Homo sapiens: one gene and its partners. The protein of the gene in region 1 interacts with the protein of each later gene in a biochemical or structural test. Each region holds a gene or a part of one and is shown on either strand. Other genes may lie near its edges.

Evidence for each region.
Region 2: of the proteins of CDC14A (region 1) and WEE1, one has a biochemical effect on the other in vitro, tested with the Homo sapiens proteins (one study listed by BioGRID).
Region 3: of the proteins of CDC14A (region 1) and CHRM1, one has a biochemical effect on the other in vitro, tested with the Homo sapiens proteins (one study listed by BioGRID).

The regions. Positions count from the first base shown.
Region 1 is NC_000001.11:100,495,418-100,502,519, reverse strand, and holds part of CDC14A (dual specificity protein phosphatase CDC14A), read right to left. Parts: intron 6,519-7,102; coding exon 6,471-6,518; intron 4,436-6,470; coding exon 4,313-4,435; intron 3,592-4,312; coding exon 3,258-3,591; coding exon of another isoform or gene 3,141-3,257; exon of another isoform or gene 3,060-3,140; intron 1-3,059. UniProt on the Homo sapiens protein: Dual-specificity phosphatase. Required for centrosome separation and productive cytokinesis during cell division. Dephosphorylates SIRT2 around early anaphase.
Region 2 is NC_000011.10:9,569,371-9,576,680, reverse strand, and holds the start of WEE1 (wee1-like protein kinase), read right to left. Parts: upstream 3,012-7,310; 5' UTR 2,748-3,011; coding exon 2,172-2,747; intron 1,995-2,171; exon of another isoform or gene 1,306-1,994; intron 1,189-1,305; exon of another isoform or gene 1,172-1,188; intron 794-1,171; coding exon 588-793; intron 452-587; coding exon 388-451; intron 195-387; coding exon 22-194; intron 1-21. UniProt on the Homo sapiens protein: Acts as a negative regulator of entry into mitosis (G2 to M transition) by protecting the nucleus from cytoplasmically activated cyclin B1-complexed CDK1 before the onset of mitosis by mediating phosphorylation of CDK1 on 'Tyr-15'.
Region 3 is NC_000011.10:62,918,308-62,926,292, forward strand, and holds the start of CHRM1 (muscarinic acetylcholine receptor M1), read right to left. Parts: upstream 3,057-7,985; 5' UTR 2,911-3,056; intron 2,135-2,910; exon of another isoform or gene 1,853-2,134; intron 55-1,852; exon of another isoform or gene 1-54. UniProt on the Homo sapiens protein: The muscarinic acetylcholine receptor mediates various cellular responses, including inhibition of adenylate cyclase, breakdown of phosphoinositides and modulation of potassium channels through the action of G proteins.

The DNA of each region.
Region 1 (7,102 bases):
CACGATAGAGTGCACTTATACAAACCTAGATGGTAGAGCCTGCTACACACCTGAGCTAAATGGTATAACCTATTGCTTCTAGGCTGCAAACCTGTACAGCATGTTACTCTACTGAATATTGCAGGCAACTATAACACAGTGGTAAGTATGTGTGTCTAAACATACCTAAACATAGAAAATAGACAGTAAAAATATGGTATAAAAGACTTAAAAATTGTACACCTGTAAAGGGCACTTACCATGGATAGAGCTTGCAGGAAGGGAAGTTACTCTGGGTGAGTCAGTGGGTGAGTGGTGAGTGAACATGAAGGCCTAGGACATTACTGAACACTACTGTAGACTTTATAAATGCTGTACACTTAGGTTATACTAAATCTATATTAAAAATTTTTCTTTCATGAATAATCAATTAACCTTAGCTTACTGTAACATTTTTATTTTATAAACTTAATTGTTTTAACTTTTGACTCTTTTGTAATAATACTTAGTTTACTATTTTTTAATGTTTTTATCAACTCCCAATCACTTGAAATTAACACTTAAAATAAGCATTGTATGTGTAACTGTACCAAGTATTTTCTTCCTTTACATCCTTATCCTATTTTTTTTATTTTAAATATCTTTAGTATTTACTTTCTAAATTTTTTGTTTAAAATGAAGACACAAACACACACATTAGCCTGGGCCTACACCAGGTCAGGATAATCAATATCACTGTCTTCCACCTCCACATCTTGTCCCACTGGAAGGTCTTCAGGAGCAGTAACACATGGAGCTGTCATTTCTTATAACAACAATGCCTTCTTCTGGAATACCTCCTGAAGGACCTGCCTGAGGCTTACAGTTAACTTTTGTTTTAATAAGGAGAAGGTGTATACTCTAAAATAACGATATAAAGTACAGTATAGTATATACATAGGCCAGTAACAGGTATTTATTATCAAATATTATGCACTGTACATAATTGTATTGCTAGATTTTTATATGGCTGCAGCACAGTAGGTCTGTTTACACCAGCATCACCACAACACATGAGTACTGCAGTTATAACCCTACGAGGGCTACGACGTCACTAGGCAATAGGAATTTTTCAGCTCCATTATAGTCTTATGGGACCACCATTGTATACATGGTCTGTTATTGACCAAAACATCATTAGGCAGCACATGACTGTATGATTATCTATATATCTCTAGCACTTTTTCTGAAAATGGAAAGATCTGCATTCTGATCCAAAAGAAGAGGCTGATCCACAATCGGTATGTGAAAATGCTGACTGAACTCAATGCCTGCTGGAAAGTATATGATTTATAAATATAGTTAGGAAAATGTAAATATATTATCTTTTTACATCTAATCCTTAGTTACATGGATTTAAGTTTTTATGATACCTATACACCCAATTTTTATAGTGGGATCATGGGATCAGAATCAGATTAAGGGGTAGATGGGCTGGCAATTTCCTGGGACCCTAATCTGTAAAAGAATCTAAACTAATGCCAAGGCCAAGCATGGTGGCTCATGCCTGTAAAATAGGACAGGGAACATCAGATATGCCAGGCTCCTCTTAGGGAATGGGTTGAGAGTGGACAGAGAGGGTAAAAGTTTTAAAAGAGGTCTCAGGTAGGGACAGGAGTGGTAATGAATCTAATGCAACCACACATGAACACACACACACACACACACACACACACACACACACACACACTGCATTCTCATGTTAGAAAACATCCTCATCCTCATGGTTTCTTTTTTTTTTTTTTTTTTTTTTTTTTTGAGAGTGGCTCTGTCACCCAGCTGGAGTGCCGTGGCACGATCTTGGCTCACTGCAGCTTCCACCTCCCAGGTTCTAAGGGATTCTCCTGCCTTATGGTAGCTGGGATTACAGGTGCGTGCCACCACGCCCAGCTAATTTTGTATTTTTTGTAGAGACGGGGTTTCACCATGTTGGCCAGGCTGGTCTCGAACTCCTGACCTCAGGTGATCCACCAGCCTTGGCCTCCCAAAGTCCTGGGATTATAGGCATGAGCCACTGAGCCTGGCCCATCCTCATGGTTTCTAAACTGTCAACTAAAGAAAGTAGATATCATTAAGAATGAACCATGGGGCTCCTGTTTTGCTGAGTGGGCCATACGCAGCACACTGCCACCAGCACCTTTCCTCCTCCCCTCTTCTCTACAGAAGCAGGCACTCCCTAGATGATGGCTGAGGAAATGTTTCAAGAATAGCAAGTGTGAAGCGACACCAGGCCAGAGCCTTCCAAGACACCCAGGGCTTGTTCATGCCCTGAGTACGATCAGTGTTGCAACACTGTATGTATATGTACCATGCTTCATATTTCCTTAATACATAGGATTGATTTCTCCTTCCTATTTGTCCTTGTTCCTCTCAAATCGAAACTCACATTCCTATAGATCTCAATACCCCTAGAGGCAATCAAAACAGGTTATTAAAGTAATTCATAATAGGAGTTTACCAACAGAGTTTACCTTACCAGGTATTGTTGATTGTTAAAGAGAGCTTGGTAACCTAAATAGAGATCTCATTGGTAAGATGTGTTTGGAGGTCTTCCCACCTTTCTCTAGAAGAGTGCTGGCTACTTTTAAACACCTTCCTGATACTCTGCTTGCTCCCCACCTTGCATCCCAGGTACCTACCTATAAGCCCTTCTTAGAAATATCTTCCACTTGCCACTTATTTTATTCTGGGTCAGTTCCTTGCAGGAGGTGAAATATTCAAGGGCCTAATGCTTAGTTCTAGGAAGATACTGTTCACTCAGCACCTTCCACGTTTCAATACTCCAAAATTAATTCACTGATATATGATGCGGAAAAAGCCATAATTCCCCAAACCAGCGCACCCCCAGCAAATGCTATCCACTGTATGAATCAGCTCCTGGCTTAGCACCAGATATTCAGAGTGATTGGAAACATAACTGAAAAGTAACTGAAGTCAACAATGCCCATAATCAAAAGAATGAAAGCTATTTCCCTTTTAAGAGAAACTACTTAAAAAGGAGTTGGGGGTAAGAAGAAAAAGAAGGAAGGAAGAAAACCCAGTTGTGACTTGGCGTTTACTTGAAGAGGAGCTAGCAGAATGTAGTGCATAGACAGTTTCACAGCACAGAGGGAAGGCATCGCTCAGAAGGCTTCCTTGGCACTATTAAATTTCTTTGGTGGCAGCCTCGGCTGGGAAGGCAAGGCACAGAAGTTGCATTCAGGGTTCTGAGGACCAGGAGGTGGTGTCTGCGCACTTACAGGGATAGAACGGCTCAGGAATCTCGCTGAAGAAGAAGAAAGCCCGGTGTAGGAGGGTCGGAGGATGGTGGTGTGCTCCTCTGTCTTGGCGCTGTGGGGGCCTGGGGGGCTGTTCAGGTTGCCCCCGTTGCTGTTGCTGCTTCTGTTGTACTGATTATTGTTGAGCTCAGGGTAATTTCTGGTAGTTGGCTGGGAGCTGCCATTCAAGAGGTTGGTAAACGGGCTGGCTGTGAAGCCTGCCTTAGAGGATGAGGAGGTCTTTTTGTTCTCTGGATCATCTGTTGCAGCATTCAAGTTCCCTAGAGAACTGGCTAGCCGGGAGTTTATGGAAAAGCTGAATGGAAAACACAAGTGAGGAGGGAAAAAACAGACAACAATGTACAATCACACAGAGCTCACGTTTCTAAAACACATACTCATGACATTAGGGGAACATGATGAAGATGAATCTGATCAATGTGAATGATGTCAGGATGGCTTCCTCATCACCCTTGGTGTTATGATAATATGTAGCCTTGAGTTATACATATCAAGTTGCTTTGTCAAAAGCAGTTAACTAGGACCCAAGAAACTGGCTAAAACACTTTGACTACAGATCTTGAAATAGAACATCACAGAGTTTTATTTACCCTGGGGTGGGAAGTAAAGGAAAAGGGCCATGTAAGGGGAGCATTAAAAGCAGACTTAAGTACATATTCAATCACATGACTACATCAAACATCCCTACCCATTTTGGTTAGTTCTCCCTTGCCTATACGTGTCAGCTGAGAAATGACAATATCATTTGTATATACAACTGAACTCCATTTTCTGGATCACACTAAGCCAGCTGCTCACTCTCTAGAAGAAGAGCACGCTTTGCACCATTCCCTCCACAACCTTGTCTCCTGCCTTCCCAAGACAGGAACGGAAGCCCCAGAACATCACAGGGTCTTCCGTGGTTTCTCCTCTTCTCCCTTGTCCCCTCCTCTGACAAAACTGCAGCTAAACTCATCGCCTGCTGCAAGCTTCCTTTACCTCAAACCAGCACCTTAGAAGAGGGAGAGAAAAATTACCTTCTTACAGTGGCACCCGAAGACAAAGAAGTTCTGTTGATCCTCTTGGCCGTTGCTGAAGGGGACAGTGCCATTTTTGATGTCTTCAAAGTAACTGCAGATCCTTGCAGGGATGAACTTAATCTTTGCGGAGAAAAATGGCAAAGTGTCACAATAAAGTAGTCTTATCTTAAACATTCAGCAACTAACTAGGACAAGATAAATTAATCAATCTTAAAGATATCATGACAGGTCCTAATAGTGATGACAGCAGCGGCAGCCACCACTGACACAGCACTAACTCTGCCAGGCACTGTTCTAAGAACCTTAAAGATGTCAGCTCAGCTTGTCCTTACAACAACCCTAAGAAGTAGCTAATATTGCTGTCCTTACTTTACAAGTGAGGAAACAAAAACACAGAGGAAAAGTTCCTCATCCAGTCACTCAGTTAGTGAACAGCAGACCTGGGATTCAAACCCAGGAGTCAAAGTCCTGCTCTTAGCCATGATCCTGTCTTCCTGGGCCACTGCCCTTCTTTGCCACTGGTATTCATTCCTCAGCACAACCTTAGATTCCACTTCTTATATGTCAAATCCATCCTCTTCTTTTCACCCTGCAAACTACCCTAGGCGAGGCCATCTTTATTTCTTATCCTTGACTACAAGTGGCATCTTTTAATCTTATTCCTAAACAATTCAAATTGTGAATAGCCTTCAGTGAATCATGTCACTTCACTGTTTAAATCATTTCATCTTTCCTCTGTGCCCACAAGCCTATAGAAACTCTTTGGCTTGGCATATGCAGCCCCTCCAAAATCTGGACAGGTCCTTCTTTCCACACTTTCCCATTGGACATCTCTATTCCAGCTACATAAGAATGCCTTGAGTTCCCTGAATGGGTAGCGTCCACACGTTTGTCCAGTTTGCACAGACTATTTCCCTGCCATGGCATTTTCTCATCTCCTTCCCATCCTCTACCTCTTATCTTCCATGTCCATTTGACCCACTTCTATCACACTTAGCCTTTAATGGTCCAATCAGCTGTTACCTCATCAAGCAAGCCTTCTCTGAGTTCCCAAGCAATATATGTTTCATCATATATTCTCATAGTAAATCATAGCTCTTATACCATATTGCGTCATCTGATATTTGTCTATCTCCGTTACCTGATGTAAGCTCCTTGAGGGCAAAGACTTCTCTCTCATTTCAATTCCCAGTGGCTAGCACAATGCTGGATTCTGAGCAGGTGCTCAATAAATATTTGCCAAGTGGACAAAAAGGAAAAACTGACTCAAATCTGGAGAGCCAGGGCCCAGTCATAATCTTAATACCAAATCTGTTTGATCCTAGATAAATCATTTAATATAGCTGAACTCTGTTTTCCTCTCTGCTAGAGAAAAGCTTATTTACTTGTAGACTCTTTCCTTCATTATCCACCCACCAAACAGCAGCTTAAGCTCATGTTTTGCCTCCAAAATAAAAATGGAAAAAGTTCTACAAAGAAGCAATTCAAGCTTCTCCAGAAGCTCCAGATGCTTAAGCCCTCTTTGAACTGCCCTCACTAAACAGTCCTAAACCTAAGAATGAATAAGAACCAGCAGGTGAAGAGCTTCTTTCCCCTATTTCATCAACACTCTTGGCCAAACATCTCTGCTGCTCTCACTGAGTGCCACACCAGATCGTGGTACCACTCCCGGAGGTTTCAGGGGACATTTTTCCACAGAACAAAACTAGTGTTTCCTCTTGAAAAGGAAGGTAGAGAAGAAAATAAGACTAGAAAATAAAGGAGGGGAACAAATGCATGCTGATTGGGAAAAAATAGAAAGAGGACCAATAAAAATGAAAACAATTTAAGCTAGATCTATCACTAGATCAAAAGGAGAAATGCAGAGCACCTGTAGTTTCTTAGAGACCCCCCTCCACAATGTGCTAAGAGCACAAAATACATTGATGTCTCTACCACCACCACACAGTCCTGTGGGCATGCCAGCAAAAAAAAAAAAAAATCCTTTTCATGGTGAGCATTAAAAATAAGGCATAAACAATATGGAAGAGAAAGGAAGCAATTTAAAAAGCAAAAAGCTGTGTACAGTTGATTTTCGTGTTTGAGGCTTGGGAAACATGGCTAAAAGGAAGCATATATTTACAAGCTACTAGACATTCAACCTCATTGGCAGTACCTGAAAGGCTGGGACACTGCTCTTGGATGTCCTTTTGTATCATCTGACCTGCGGAAATCAAAGACAGATGCTCACATATCACCAGGGCACACGTTTTCACAAAGACCACAAGGCACATCAAATGGTATCAAACCAGTAAAAATATTAAATTAGCAAAAGGGAGAAACCTTGCAAATGGATATTAGATTACCCAGAACCAGGCTTGCTATCCCCTTTTCTCATAATACTGCAGAAAATGATAACCTCATCTTTGAGCAATATGAACCTTTATTCCTTAGATCAGGAACTCAGTAAAGACCCAATCTGACTACAGTGTTATAGTTTCTCCCAGATTACACATGAAAACTAAATTCCCTGTGAATCTGTTTGGTGTTTACCATACCGGCAAAACATCCTTCTGCTATGTGTATCTCTTATTTATAAGTCAAAAAAATGTTGCTGCTTACCATTATATTAATTTGTGGACTGGGGCCTTGCCACCCAGTATATTGTAATTTTAAAAAATGATGATATTTACAAACGTTTGCACCTTTTGATTCCCCTTTTTTTAAACCCAATCTGAGCTATCAGCAGGTTTCAAATGTGATCAGAAGTCAAGTCCCATCATTGATTCTGGTGAGTAGTTTGAGACT
Region 2 (7,310 bases), on another chromosome or scaffold:
GACAAAATGTTTAATACATACTCATCAACAGAGCCCGCCAATGGCTTTTTTGATCGCTTAATGGCATAAATGCATCCATCCAGCCTCTTCACACACTTAAATACAGAACCAAATTCTCCAGAGCCGATTTTCTCTAGCTCATGAAATTCTGTTGTATACCGGGACTTCATATTGCTTTCAGTAATTGTAATTCTCTGTAATAAAAAGTGTTTCCATATATGTAATACAAATATACGAAAACAGTTATTTCTTGCTATGGTGATAGGGCTATGTGTGAAATTTAAAAACCATTCTACCTTATGTGTTAATGCTTATTAACATATTCATAGCATGCTTTAAGTGGCAGAAAAGTAAATTTCAAAAAAATAAAAATAAAAAGCTATTTACCTTAGCAGGTCTTGTTTCATCTTCAAGCTCATAATCACTGGCTTCCATGTCTTCACCACAGGAACTAAAAAAAATGTTATTTTTCTATCAATATATCTGACAGATACATCCATGCCATTAAATAGGAACTAAATTTTGATAAGTATACCAAACCAATCTTAGGTTATTTGGAGAACCAAACTGTTAAATAAACGACTTACTCATTCCAATACGTTCTCTTTCTACGACGACACTGTCCTGAGGAATGAAGCAACAAAGAATCCGGAGTAAAAGGATTAATATTCACTTGAGGAGTCTGTCGCACATCAAATTCCCTTTTTCCTGATTTTTCTGTATCCATGAAGAGAGAACTACCCCGGAGTTTAACAGAGCTGGAATCAATTCCCCGAGCTTTGGAGAGCAAACTCTAGGGAAAGAAAAATACAAATACAATTTTTAGGATCCAAGTCCTATAGTCAGCCTTCTCAACCTAACCTTCAACGAGCCTTTCATAGGGCTGAATGCGTAGGTGAAAGCAACACACAAGCCTTTGTTAGAGTTCAAGCAAAATAAATTGTGGCTAATTTAGGAAGACTGAAGCTGGATATTAACTATCTTTTCTTGAAAAAAATAGCCAAGTAAAATCTGCCTCTAACCCTAAAAAGAATATAAATGCTGCCTAAAACTAAGTTCATTCTAGTGGCTAAAAGTTAACAAATTCTTTCAACCCATCCAAAAATAGAAAGCAGTCCGAGAGCCCCATAAAATCTCCCCTCCCCCATCTAGATAGGGCTTCCATAGCCACCTCCGCTGGACTCCTCCCCTCACTTCCAGAGGGATTTTGCCTTGAGCAAGTCGGCCAATAAACAGTACAGCTCGAAAGCACACAGATTGCCTAGGCTGATGACAAACAGTACATTGAAAACAAAACAAACTCACTTTAAAAGGTGCATCTTCCCTGTTAACCTTACAAATGCGAGGCTTGTCTTAATCTCTGGAAGTATCAGCTTTAAAATCTGCAGTTTTAAAAGTGGTCATCTGCGCAGTACTCGAAGGCCTTTCAAAACACAGGTGCTGAACACCTCCTTCTTTAAGATACCTTATCTACGGTAGGATGTTCCTAATCACACGGAGGCCGGCCAAACTCTGGGCACCGCAAACCCACGATAAAAACAAATGCTGGGCCAAGACCTTGTCCAGAAACAGGCCTCAGTACTGCCTGGACTTAGGATGAGTCTGTAGGACTGTAAATGCTTGGAAGGCCAGCCTTTACTCCCAAGTCCAAGCGTAGTCTCCCTGCATGCCCCAGACCTTTCCCCCATCCACGCCACACGACACGACACGATCAGGGCGGGACAATTATTTTTCTTTAAACTCCTTCTGCCCGCGCCGCCCAAATTACAGGCCCGATCGCCGCGTTTAAAAGGCATCCTATGGCTCGGGAGTGTCAGGTGGCCGGGCCGGCACCCTCCAGCATCCTCGCGAACCGCGTTATCGGTGCCGCACTCGGGGCTGACACGCTCGGGGCGGCCCGGACTCAACGGGCGGCAAATCCTTGGCCACCCGGACGGGCCGATCGGCCCCTTTGTAAGATGAAGTTCCAGACGAGGCCCATTGTTCAGTTACATAATCTCAACGGACAACCTCGGGGCAGGGCCAAACACAAGGGCTGCCAACTTTGGGGGGCGGCGCAGGAAAGCGAGGGGGGAGCGGCCGGCCGCTTCTGTAACCGAACCCAGGCAGCGGCGCTGGCCCCTCCGGCGCCGCGGCCCCGGCCGCCGGGTGCCCGCGCCCGCCGCTCTCACCTTGGGCGTGTGCGGGGTGTCGAAGAGTCGCAGCTTGCGGAAGGTCTTGTGTGGCGGGGTGCCCGGGTGGTCCGGCCGCGGCGAGCGGCGGCCTTCGCCCGCCCGGCGCGCCCCGCAACCCCGCGGCGACGCATCTCCTGGGCCGCCGCAGCGCACCGGCGAGAAAGAGCTACCCAGGAAGTAGGGGGCCGCCGGCGACTTGACCGGCGACGAGGAGCCGAAGCCCTCCTCCTCCCACGAGTCGCCCTCCGCCCCACCGCCCGCCTCGTCCGCGCCCGGGCAGGCGCCGGGCAGCAACAGGTCCTCCTCCAGCTCGCCGGGGCTGCCGGGGGCCGGCCCGGGCGAGCGGCGGCGCTCGGGCCCGGGCTCCGTGGGGCTCCGCGCGGGCGGCAGCGGCGAGTCGGGCTCTTGAAAGGCCGAGTCCTCCCCGGTGCTGTGGCCGCTGCCCTCCTCCTCCTCCTCTTCTTCCTCCTCCTCACAGTCGCTGCAGGGCGAGAAGATCAGCTTCTGCCGCAAGGTGCAGGCCGCCCCGGCGCGGCGGGGTGGCGGCGGCTGCTGTCGGCTCAGGAAGCTCATCGCGGCCCTGGGGACGGGGCCGAGGACAGGAGAGCGGAGGCCTGCGGGGTCCAGGACACTGCGGGCCTGGGGGCGGGTCCGCCACGTGCGGCTGGGCGCGCCTAGTCGCAGCCGCGGCGTCTCTGCGCGGCGGCGGCCTGCGGCTCCGGGGCGCTCGGGCTGCGGACGGTGGCGGCAGCGGCGGCGCGGACTTTCCGGCAGAGGCGGGGCGGCCCGAGCACCGAGGCTGAGGTCTCCTCAGGTCCAGTCTCAGGTTCGGGCTCCGCGGCTTCCCGCGACCGTTAACCACGTGAGTGCCCAGTCCACCAATCCCAGTGCAGCTCCGGGTTTGAAAAAAAAAGGAGGGCGCGACGTAGCCCGCGGGGGAAGGACCAGCTACGCGATTTTGGCGGGAACCCGCTGGCTCCACCCCCGGCTCGGCGCCAGCCAAGTCTGGGCGGGCTGTGGTGTTCCGGGCCTATGAGCGAGCCTGGGGCGGCGGGGGGCCCGGCCCGGCGCCGCCCGAACACCGCCCGGACGGGGCTGGGCCTTCTGGGAGGGGCAAAAGAGAGCTGGATTCGCCTAAGCCGACCCGAAAGCCGGCCTGGACGCACCCCCCTCGCTGCTCCTCCGGTGCTGGGGGATCTGAAGAGGGGCAGGCGGCCGGGCAGCGCCTCCGGGTCTCTGCGAGCTGGGAAGAGCCAGGGACCGAATGGCCTTCGGCCGCTGCCCTCGGAGGCCGCTTCTTGCCCCTCGTCCCCTGGGGCGAGCCACTGGGGCGTAGTGGGCGTGGCAGTGGGCAGCCACGTTCAGGGTCGAGGTCTGAGCCGGAAATGGTGACTCGGGCCTCGGGACCTTTCTGAACTGCGGGAGCCGATGTGCTTAGGCTGGACACTGGCTGGGAGGAGGCCTCCGAGCCCCATTATTTCCCCGGGGTGGGTGACTGTTAGGGGCGGGTGTCAGCACAGCGAGAAGAGCTCTCCCAAGCAGGGGTCCACCTCTGCCGACCTTGTCCGCGGCCAAAAGAAACAGCAGCACAGTTGCCCACCACGAAACCAAGTGCCCGGCACACGATCTCCGTGTTTACATTTGTTCGCCAGCACGTGGGCATGCGTTGGCAAAACCGATTGGCCCGGCTCGCGGCAAACTCAAACGCAATTTTAAAAAATTTCCCTAGTGCTTCGTTAAACTGATTTAATCTGTCCCTTAATGCACTTACACGTTTCTTCCAGTTTTCTTTTTTCTTTCTTTGTTTATTTATTTTTTTTTTTTTTTCTGAGACGGGGTCTTGCTCTGTCACCCAGGCTGGAGTGCAGTGGCACGATCTCGGCTCACTACAACCTGCAACCTCCGCCTTTAGAGTTCAAGCGATTCTCATGCCTCAGCCACCCGAGTAGCTGGGATTACAGGCGGCTGCCACCACACCTGGCTAATTTTTGTATTTTTAGTAGAGACGAACTTCCCAATGTTGGCCAGGCTGGTCTCCAACTCCTGATCTCAAGTGATCCGCCCGCCTCGGCCTCTCAAAGTGCTGGAATTACAGACGTGAACCACCGCTCCCGGCCTCTTCCAGTTTTCTGTTGTAAACAACCCCGTGGTGTATATGCTTCCTTCTCCATGTTTTTTGTTTGGTTTGGTTTTTTTCGACACGGAGTCTCGCTCTGTCGCCCCAGGCTGGAGTGCAGTGGCGCGATCTCGGCTCACTGCAGCCCCCACCTCCCGGGTTCTCGGGTTCCAGCGATTCTCCTGTCTCCCGGGTAGCTGGTATTACAAGCACATACCAGGCCTGGCCAATTTTTGTATTTTTACAAAATGCAAAATACGGAGTTTCACCATGTTGGCAGGCTGGTCTCAAACTCCTGACCTCAGGTGATCTGCCCGCCTCGGCCTCCCAAAGTGCTAGGATTACAGGCGTGAGCCACCGCGCCTGGCCTTTTTAAAATACTCTTTTGGATACCTCCCTGGAGTTAGAATTCCTCAGTCAAAGGATATAAACTGGCAAACTCCCCCTCCAGAAACACAATACATTCTCACTAGCAGTGGATTAGAGCACACTCTGTGAATTCAGGACATCAGTGGATGTTCGTTGATGTGGTTTTGTTGTTTTGATTCATATTGTTGAACAGTTGTCATGGGTTTAATGATAATTTACATTTATCTCTATTGCCTATTTTTCTTATTGTTAGCACTTTATGCATATTAACACTTTGTCATATATGTTGTTCTAATGCTTTTCAAAGGCTAAATAAACTCAAGCTGAATTTTTCTTGAAACACACGGTAGTACTTAACACATCAAATCGGGAATTTCCTGAGATCACACAACTGAAGACACAGTGAAGGATCAACAGCTGTCTTTTCTCCTAACATTTGCTAACTGGTGTATAAATGTGTTTTTTATATGGTCATGCAAACTTAATTTTAAGCTCTTGGAGGACAAGAATTCTAGACTTGTATAAGGAGAGTTAGTCAATGATCCACAGTGGCCAAAGCCAAGGAGTGATTTTCAGAACCCTTGCTCCAACACTTCCCCTCCTGCCACTCCTTTTTTTTAAATTTTTATTTTTCGAGACAGGGTCTCACTCTGTCCACCCTGTCTCAAAGTGGAGTACAGTGGTGCAATCACGGCTCTGTAGCCTCGATCTCCCCAGGCTCAAGAGATCCTCCCACCTCACCCTCCCAAATAGCTGGGACTAATGATGTGTGCTACCACGCCCAGCTAATATTTGCATTTTTAGTAGAGACTCTGTTTCACCATGTTGCCCAGGCTGGTCTAGAACTCCTGGGCTCAAGCAATCTGCCCGTCTCCGTCTCCCAAAGTGCTGGAATTACAGGCATGAGCCACCATATTGCCCAGGCTGTGGGCCCCCTCCTGCCACTCCTGATGACAAATATAATTATTTGATATAATTGACATTTTCTCAATTTATTATGAAGCATAAATAAAAATAGAGAACCCTACTTTTATCGATCTGTAACATAAACTGCATGTGAAAATAGTGTGCTTTCTAAGTAAATGGGACTTTAAAGCCCTTTAGTTGCCTCTCCACAACTAGACTGATGCTCCTAAACTCCTCCTATGTAAGAATTCCGTATCTCTGTTCTCACGTCCCCTCCCTCACTCTTTGCTCTTTCACAACACCTGGCTTTATTTCCTTAGCAGGCTTATTTCTATCTCAAAGTACGTTGTTAGTTTATTACTATCTCCTTCTAGAAAAATAAGGTCCCCGAGGGTAGGGGACCCTTGTTTATTGCAGTATTCTAACGTGGATTAGGCGTTCACTCCCTTGTGAGTGATAAAAGAGCCCTTATTTAAATAATTGTTGGTTTATTCGCTTCCTAAATTGGCACATTTGCAGATAAGTTTGCCTATTTAAGATTTTGAATCGGGTGTGGTAGTTGTTCACACCTGCAATCCCAACACTTTGGGAGGTCAAGACAGGAGGATCACTTGAGGCCAGGAGTTCAAGACCAGCCTGGACAACATAGTGAGACCTCACCTCTACTAAAAATTTAAAAATTAGCTGGGCATGGTGTCACATGCCTGTGGTCCCAGCTACTCAGGAGGCTGAAGTGGGAGGATCCCTTGAGCCTGAGAGATGAAGGCTGCAGTGAGCTGTGATTGTGCCACTGCACTCCAGCCTAGGCAGCAGACCGAGAACTATCTCAGGAAAAAAAAAAAAAAATTGAACAGAGATCACCACTCTAGTACTCTATTTAATGCAAGATTGTAGAGGTAGCAGCCATCACACTTCCTATTTTTCCCCATGGTTTTTCCCCACTCCAGTAACAAAAACTTAAATGGTACAAAATTCTCCCACCTATCCCTTCAAATCCCAGCCCAGTTCCCCTTCCTGAAGGTAAACACTCTTAACAATGTTTTGTTTTGTTTTGTCAACTCCTACTTTGCCACCTGTCTGCGTCCCTAAATGGGAGGTCTTTGAAGTAGGCTAAGGCAGGCAGAAGGGCTTGGGTTGTGGATGGGAAGGGAAGAGTTCTTGGTCCACAGACCCAGGACTTTGAAGTCCTCACACAGAATCGAAGAGGTAAGTTCACAATAAATGTGTAGAATGATTGGGGGAAATAATTTTTTTTTTTTTTTTCCTTGAGACAAGGGTTTGCTCTATTGCCCAGGCTGGAGTGCAGTGGTGCGTTCACGGCTCACTGCAACCTCCCCTTCTGGGCTCAAGCAATTCTCCCACCTCAGCCTCTTGAGTAGCCAGGACTACAGGCAAGTGCCACTACACCTGGTGAATTTTTGTATTTTTTGTAGAGACCGGGTCTCACCATGTTGCCCAGGCTGGTCTTGAACTCCTGAGCTCAAGTGATCTGCCTACCTCAGCCTCTCACAGGGTTGGGATTACAGGTGTGAGCCACTGCACCTGGCTGAAGGAATTTTTTTTTTAAGTTGAAACCAAGACTCAGTGCTAGAGCCATTTCCTCTGTGAAGCCTTTCCTGACTCTCCATTCCCTACTCCAGACTTTCCACCGCACCCAGCACGGACTATGTAACACTCTTACTTTGTTTACTTGTCTGGTTTTCACACTGCCCAGGGCAGGGTCCAAACTGTGTTTGTCTTCAGAG
Region 3 (7,985 bases), on another chromosome or scaffold:
TTTATCCCAGGGCTTGGCAGATAGTAGTTGCTCAATAAATACCTGTGGAATAAATGTACGTGTGTGTACTCAACTTCAGACCCTGGAGCCTGAGGGTGAACCTGTGGGGGTCAGGACCAGGTCCAGAGCATGGTCCAGAGGCCCCTCTTCTCCCTTGAGCTCCCACATCTCATCTGCCAGGTCCCTGCTTCCCTGAGTGAGGCCCTGCCTGGCTGGAGAGCATAGGAGAAAAACAGCCAAGAGCATCCTTGTCTGTAAAGTGGACCAAGGAAACCCTGCCTCACCCGGCTGCAGGGAAGCTAAGTGAGGTGCCAGGACAGACATGGACGTGCCAAAGCATTTGTCACTGGGGAGAGGAGAATGTTAGCCTGGGCTCAAAGGGTTAAGGGATGAGGTCAGAGCCTTTATTACAGCAGGCCAGACTGTTGACTCCCAGCGCCCAGGACCAATCCCTAGGGGCTGGGGATCTGGCTTGTGAGAGCAACTGGGAGTGGAGAGAACCACTGGGGGAGGCAGGGAAAGGGAAATGGGGAGAGGGATTCCTGAACACCAGGCTTTTCTGAACGTACCGCTGGCCAAAGAGTACAGAAGGGGAGGGAGGGAATGAGGGGATGCTGGGGAAGATATTTAGGAGGGAGGAGCGGAGCCATCTTGTGATTCTGGGCCTGGAAGCTGGTAGAGTCCTGGTTAGGAAGAGGGGATAACATTGGGGAGTGGGAGGTATGTGGAGGGGGCTGTGGGGTTGGGCACCTGAGGCCTCACATATGCAATGAGGAGGGCGCTCCTTCTGGCCAGGTCTACTCACTGATCCCTTCTGCTAGGGCCTGACCCCAGAAGCCAGCCCATACGAGGCAGCTCTCCCCTCGGGGTTAACTTTTCTTTGACAGCAGCTCTTGACCCATTAAGGTGCACAAAACTTCCACCCCTGATGTCTGGCTTTGAGAATGAGGGAGTAAACAGAATTTATCACATTTTTAAGGCTCAACAGTTGCCATTGGGAGGGCCAACTAGTCTTGTGGAGGGCAGCAGCCATCAGTTAAATGCTACATGAAACACACTGCTTAGCTGGAAGAGAAGCATCAGCCCTAGAATCACTGCCAAATTTGCTCACCCATGATGGATCTTAAGCAGTTGCCTGACTTTGGCCAGACCATGACAGAGCCTGGGCATGAGCAGCTGGACCCTAGACCTCACTCTGCCAGTGTGGCATCAGAGGTTCTGGGTCCCTCATCCTCCTCTCCGCAAGCCCCCTGCTCCTGGCTCCTTGCACTCTCCTCCTCATTTCCTTTCTTCTCTCTCCCTCCCTCCTCCATCCTTGTAGGCATCACCATGGCACCACAGCAGAGCAGAAACCCAGCGCAATTCACCCACCTCTCCCCGCCTGCTGGGAGCCCAAGCTTCTGCGTCTCAGAGCTTACTGCGCCCCCTGCTCTCCCACCCCATCTTCCTGCTCATGGAGGCGGCAGCGCAGTGTTGTGCTGAGGATGCGGAGAAGGGGTCCGAGCCCCAGCTGGATCCCTACATATCCCTTCTCCGACCATGAGCATGTCCCTTTCCCTTTCTCAGCCTCAGTCCCTCCATACAATAGAAAGCCTCCTTTCTAGGTCTGACATGACCTCTGGTTAGCCCCTTCTTGACACTTTGGACTCCCCATTACACTTCAGAATCCAGTTCTCAGAACTCCAACCGCCAGCTGTCAGCTGCGAGCCAAGACCCACATCTTCTGCAGCCCATTTCACTATCTCCTTCCCTTTCATATCTCAGCCGCGATAGCGACTGCAGCTTGCCTGGTGGCTGAGGTCAGAGGGCAGAGAACTCTCATCTGACAGCCCACTGAACAGCTGATTACCCTGAGAAAGGAGACTGTCTGGCTACTGGAGACTGCCTGACTCCTTCCAGCCAGTTGGGCAGGGGTCTTGGGTCAGTCTGGGTGGAGCTGCAGGTGTGTTTTGTGCAAAGATGTGAACCCCTCTCCATTGGCTCTGATAACCTCTAAGCTGCACATGTCTGGATGACCTAATGAGAGCTGACGACCCCCTCCCCAGCTGGCCTGCCCAGGAGCTGACAACTCTACAAGCATCAGAGTTCCTGGCCCCTAGCCCATCCCCATGTTGTGCAGTCTGCGGGCACTGGGGTGAGTACCTGGCGTGGGTGCCCATTGGTATCCATGCATTGCCTGGATATAGGACTGAGACCCACCCTGCGGGAGCCCAAGATACTAGAAACATAAGGAGGGTCCTCTGGGCCCCTGCGCACGTCAGGGCCACCTTCCCTGGCTAGTGTGGCCACCCACATGCCCATTTGTCCCCAAAGAGCCCTGGGGCTCTTTGCCTGGTCTCCTGCTGGCTTCTGGCCTGACACCCACCTTGGCTTCTAGCTTCTCTATCTGGCCAGCAGCCTGATTCAGTCCATCTTGGGGGAGCTGAGGTGGACGGGGGTGGTGGGTTTCAGGGTGCCCTGAGGGAGGACAGGAGGTTCTGGGACTGGCACCCCCATCAAGATGGGGGTCAACCTCCCACAGGATGCTGGTGGCAAGGGCTGCTTCCTGGCCCTTTGCCCTTCCCACTCTGCCCCTAGGGTGTTGGGGGTTCTGCTTGCTACCAGGCAGCCTAATCCCTTCTGGGCCTCAGGTCCAGTTTCCTGAGGGGGATCTCCATCTCCTCTGCCAGCAGAAGCCCAGAAAAACATCAGCTATATCCACTCAAAGCCAGGAGGCCGAGTGTTTGGAGCAGTCAGTGTTCAATGCTACAGAGCCCCCTTGCCCTCTAGACCCCTCCCTGGCCTCCTCCTATCTCTGTGAGTCCATCCCTATTTCCATCTCATCCTGATCCCTGCCCTCCCCCGCTCCCCAGGACCCTCCTACCCTCTACCTTAGTGCAGCCCCTCCCAAGCCCTCCCAAATGTACTCACCACGGGGCTGAAGAGGGGTCTGTAGGGTCCTCAGCCCCACTGCCTCCCTGGGGGCCTGCGGCGTCTCCAGGGACCCAAACACCTGGCTCCCAGGGGGAGCTGCGCCCTGTGCTGGCAGCGGGAGAGGCACAGCCAGTGATTGGCATGTCCCACCCCCTGGCACGCCAGCCTTAGCGGGGAGGGAGAAAGGGAAAGAGAGGGAGGGAGGAAAGGGAGAAAAGGAAGGGAGGGGAGCTGGAGGGAAGCCTCAGGCAGCGTCTGGGGTTGGACTAGGTTCTGGAGTGTGCCCCCCTCCTTCACCAGGGCACCCAATTTGAGCCCCAAGAGGGAGGAGAAAGGACATGAGGAAGGCGAGCCCAGGAAGGCTAAAAGTCCCGGACGGGAGAGAAGGCGGATACAGGGAGACAAACACCCACACCCACTGCACAGACCCGGCGGCACACACACCCTCACAAAGGCACACTGTTTCCTTGGGCTCCTCCCCCCACCCAACCTTAGAGCCCCCAGCCCCTGTGCACCATGCCCCAACACACATGCCCTGGTATTCACATGCCTGCTTCCCTCGCACACACGCCCTCCCCCCTGCACATGCCCACGCACCCACCCACCCAACTACACACCCTGCTCTTCCTCCCTGCTGTGAGAGAGCTAGATTCCTTCTGTTTGGAAATGACACATTGGGCCTCACGTGAGAGGCTCCAACTTGGAACAGACCCAGAGGGCTGGCGCACCCGCCCGGGGGCTGAGTGAACGTGCCCGCATGCTGGGCTGTGTGCGCTAGCATTGGGCTATGCATAGCCTGTTGTGAGGGTATATGGGTGTCTGCTTTTCGGGGATGAGTAGAGGGCCAGGTGCCTGCCCCATGTGCGGCTGAGTGCCTTGCATATGTGTGTCCCTGTGTACTCATGTCACCATGCAGCCTGTGTAAGTGCAGGTGTGACCCTATCAGTCTGGAGGCAGGACGCGTGTGCACACGTGTGTCTGTATCTGATGTGTGGCTGAGTGTTGCCCAACTGTGGAACTTGCTAATTCTGACAAGTGAGGCAGCCTCTACCTGCCTGCTCCACCCCAAGCTTCCACTTGGAAGACAGACAGGCAGACAGACAGCTCTCCTCCCAGCTTGTCAAGCTCTGTCTCCCCTGACTCCCACTCAGGGCTCACAGGTGTGTACCTGGGAGGAGATGAGCCCTCCTCCCAATCTCCCTCAGCCCTACTGGGTGAGGCCAGCATCCCTCCCTGCCAGGCTGGTCTGGACTTCTGTGTTGAGCTTCCTCAGAGATAGAACCCCTGGGGGGCCGTTTGCCCTAGAGATGTGGGTCCTGCACCGCCTCTGTTTGGCCCTAGAGACCTCCCCGGGAGCTGACTGGGGAGGAGAGTTGGAGGCTGCAGGGACTGCCTTCTGGGGCTGCTGTGTTCTTTGCCCACTGGGCTGTGTCGAAGTCTTGGGGTGAGAGGTGGGAAGGAATGGGAGCATCAATTATCCCCATTTTGTAGGTGAGAAATCTGAAGAGCAGAGGTATGATTAGCATGTGGTGGGCAGGTGTTTGGGCTCAGGTCACTTGGCTCTAAGCCCAGGGCTCTGGAGTCTGGGGCAGGGGTTTCCCCTACTCATTTCCCCACCAAGCGCCGCCCCCCGCCCCCACAACCCCGCCAATGCTGGTGCCTGAGGGTAACCTGGGGCTTTCTCACCCAGGAGCCCAGTTGGCCAATGGAGCCAAGTGGAGCTGAAACTGGAGTTCCTGGGGTTTGGTCAGCAGCTACTGGTGGGCACACGTGGCAGGTACATGTGGGGGCATCTGTGCTTCTCAAAGCCAGCTGGGGTTCCAGCAGGCACCCAGTCCTCCTCCCTGCTGAAGTCAAGCAGACGCTGCAGCTTGGAGAGAAATCTAAGTGAGCATCCCCTTTCCATCCCAGGGTCACCCAGCCGGTCAGGGTTGGGTCAGAACTTGACCAGTCCCTACCCTTGGGCGCGGACTCGGGATGCCCCCTGCTGGGCTGCCCTGGGTTTGCGGCTGCGGCTTGGGCGGCGCGGTGGGGCTGCGTGTACTTGTGCGCGTACACGTGGCTGAGTGTGGGGGTGTTAGGCCTCCACGCTCAACATCCATTTCCGAATCTGAATCAGGCTCCCTCTTTGCCACCTCCCCCCAGTCTCCTTGGTCTCCCTTTTCTCTTCTCCCACCGCCTCTGCACACGTCCCTTTAGAAATAAAAACACTTATTTTGTGGGCGGGTGGGGAGGGTGTCCAGCTTTCCCCTGCCTCCTCCTGAGTGCCCCCCTCTGTCCCACGCGGCTTTCTTCTGAAGTCTGTGCAGTCGCGGACGCAGGGGGATGACGCCCCCCGCCACCCCCACCACTGTATCACTCTTCTGACGTCCCCGCCCAGACTTGGCTAGCTCACCCTTATCAGATGGGGAAACTGAGGCAGGAGGGGAGAAGAGAGGTACGGCCTGGAGAAGCGCTCCCGCCCGGCTCGCTCACCACCCCCGCACTCGCGCCCGATTTAGCCGCAGGGAGGCTGGGAACATTGTCTTTATTTTAAGCCTCCGAGTGCGGCACGAACGCGGCTGCTCGCGACAAAGGGCTTCTTGAAGCGGCTGCAGGCGGCGCACGTGGGGCTTTGGCCCCGCCCCCGCGCGACCCCCTCCAGTTCTCCCTCATTTCTGGCTGGGTTGGGTGGGGTCTGACTCTCGGGTCTCGGCTCCTGCTGGTTGTTATTTTTGGTCGCCTGGTCGAGAATTCAGTCCTCCAGGCCACCAAGGGAACGTGGAGTCGCCCTTGCGCGGCTCGGCCCCAGTCTCGGCCCCCTTACTGTGCAAGAGGAGAGTGCCCTGAATGCGAATTCAGCTTGGCCTTTTTCTAGTTGAAGCGGCCTGAGCAAGCTAGGCCCCCTCTCTAGGTCTCAGTTTCTTCATCAGTGACAAGAAGGGTAGAAATACCTCCCCGACCAGGCTGTTTGACGGGTTAGTTGAGCTTCTGCAGGTAAAACGTGGCACGTGCGTCTGCAAAAAGTGAAAGCCATCACTGCGGTTTTTTTTTTTTTTTTTAATACAGGGTTTCGGTCTCTTGGCCAAGCTGGAGTGCAGTGGCGCGATCAGAGCTCACTGCAATTGCCTGCCGGGCTCAAGCGATCCTCCCACCGCAGCCCTACCCCCTCACCCACTCTGAGTAGCTGGGACTACAGGCGCGCGCCACCCCACTGGCTTTTTTTTTTTTTTTTTTTTTTTTTAAATTTTTTATTGACAGGGTTTCACCATGTTGGCCAGGCTGGTCTTGAACTCCTGAGCTGAAGTGATCCGCCCGCCTCCGCCCCCCTCAGCTTTCTAAAGTGCTGGGATTACTGAGCCACCGCGTCCGGCAGTTCTTTTTTATAACACTTATTGAGCACTTACTATGTGTCAGGAACTGCTAAGTGCTCTCTCTCTCTCTCTCTCTCTCTCTCTCTCTCTCTCTCTATATATATATATATATATATATATATATATATATTTGTGAGACAGGGTCTCACTCTGTCGCCCAAGCTGTAGTACAGTGGCGTGATCTCGGCTTACCGGCAACCTCCGCCTCCCAGGCTCAAGGGATTCTCCTGCCTCAGCCTCCCGAGTAGATGGGATTACAGGCGCGCGCCACTACCGCCCAGCTAATTTTTGTATTTTTAGTAGAGACGGGGTTTCGCTATGTTGGCCAGGCTGGTCTCGAACTCCTGACCTCAAATAATCCACCCACCTTGGCCTCCCAAAGTGCTGGGATTACAGGCGTGAGTCACCGCATCCGCCCGGCCTCTATATTCTTATTATTTTATTTTATTTTATTGTTTTTTTTGAGACGGAGTCTCGCTCTTTCCTCCAGGCTGGAGTGCAGTGGTGCGATCTCGGCTCACTGCAACCTCTGCCTCCCGGGTTCAAGCGACTCTCCCGCCTCAGCCTCCCGAGTAGCTGGGACCACGGGCGCATGCCACCACGCCCTGCTAATTTTTTGTATTTTTAGTAGAGACGGGGTTTCACCTTGTTAGCCAGGATAGTCTTGATATGCTGACCTCCTGATCCACCCGCCTCGGCCTCCCAAAGTGCTGGGATTACACGCGTGAGCCACAGCGCCCGGCCTATATTCTTTAATTTACTTTCACAACTCTATGAGGGAGGTTCCATTATTCCCATTTTACAGATGAGTAGATTTACAAGAGGCGTGGGTCCCTGTGGTTTCATGGAGGATGAGGTCAGTGCGCCTGGAGCCATCCTGGGGCTGAGCACCTGCTGCAGTTCCAGAGACGGCAGGGACTGTGGGACAGCATTTTTAAGATTCCCAGGGTCCGGCAAGGCCGCAGGTGGGTGGAGGAATGAATGAGCAGGCTCCGGGAGTGCGCTGCAGACCCGGAGTGTAAGTCTCCGCCCTTGGTTTTAATCCGTGTCAGAAACTCAAACCCAGCTAAATGTGCCACTTTTACAGTGCCGCTTCCTCTGTCCTGGGGCACACATTCTGAGTCCGGGTGGGAGGCAGCGGGTCGGCCTAAGGGCGCCCCTCCTCGCATCTTCACCTTCAATGGCCTTAGGTCCTCAACTTCCTCTCTCCCCCCACTCCCTCCCGCCAGGACTCCTGGAGAGACTAATTCCCAGATGTAAAACAAGAAACTCAAATCCAGGGCGGGGCTGCGTATAGAGCAGGCCCAGTAAGGGGCCCCCAGAGTCCCCGCCGTCCGAGGCGAGAGCGGACGCGGCCACAATAAAGGCATCTTATTGGGACAGGAAATCGGGATTTTCCGAGTCCGGTTTCGAAATTGAGGCCTTGTAGACGCTTCACCTTTCCTGCCCGGCTACGTGCTGGGCTCCGGAGGGCAGTGGGAGTGCGGAGAAGCAGCTCCACTCCCCAGCCCCAAGTCTTGCGGGCAGTTCCCGAAGAAAAGATGGGTTTGGGGCGGTCGCGAAAGCGGCGCCTCGCGTGTTTTCCTGCCGTTCCCGGGTCCTTATAGCCCGGCCGGAGACTCCGCTGAGTTGACTCGGCGCCCGGGGTCCTGCCAGGGGTAGTGAATGCTGGGAACTGAGATAACGCAACGTGGCGTTTCGGACTCCCCGCTGGACCGG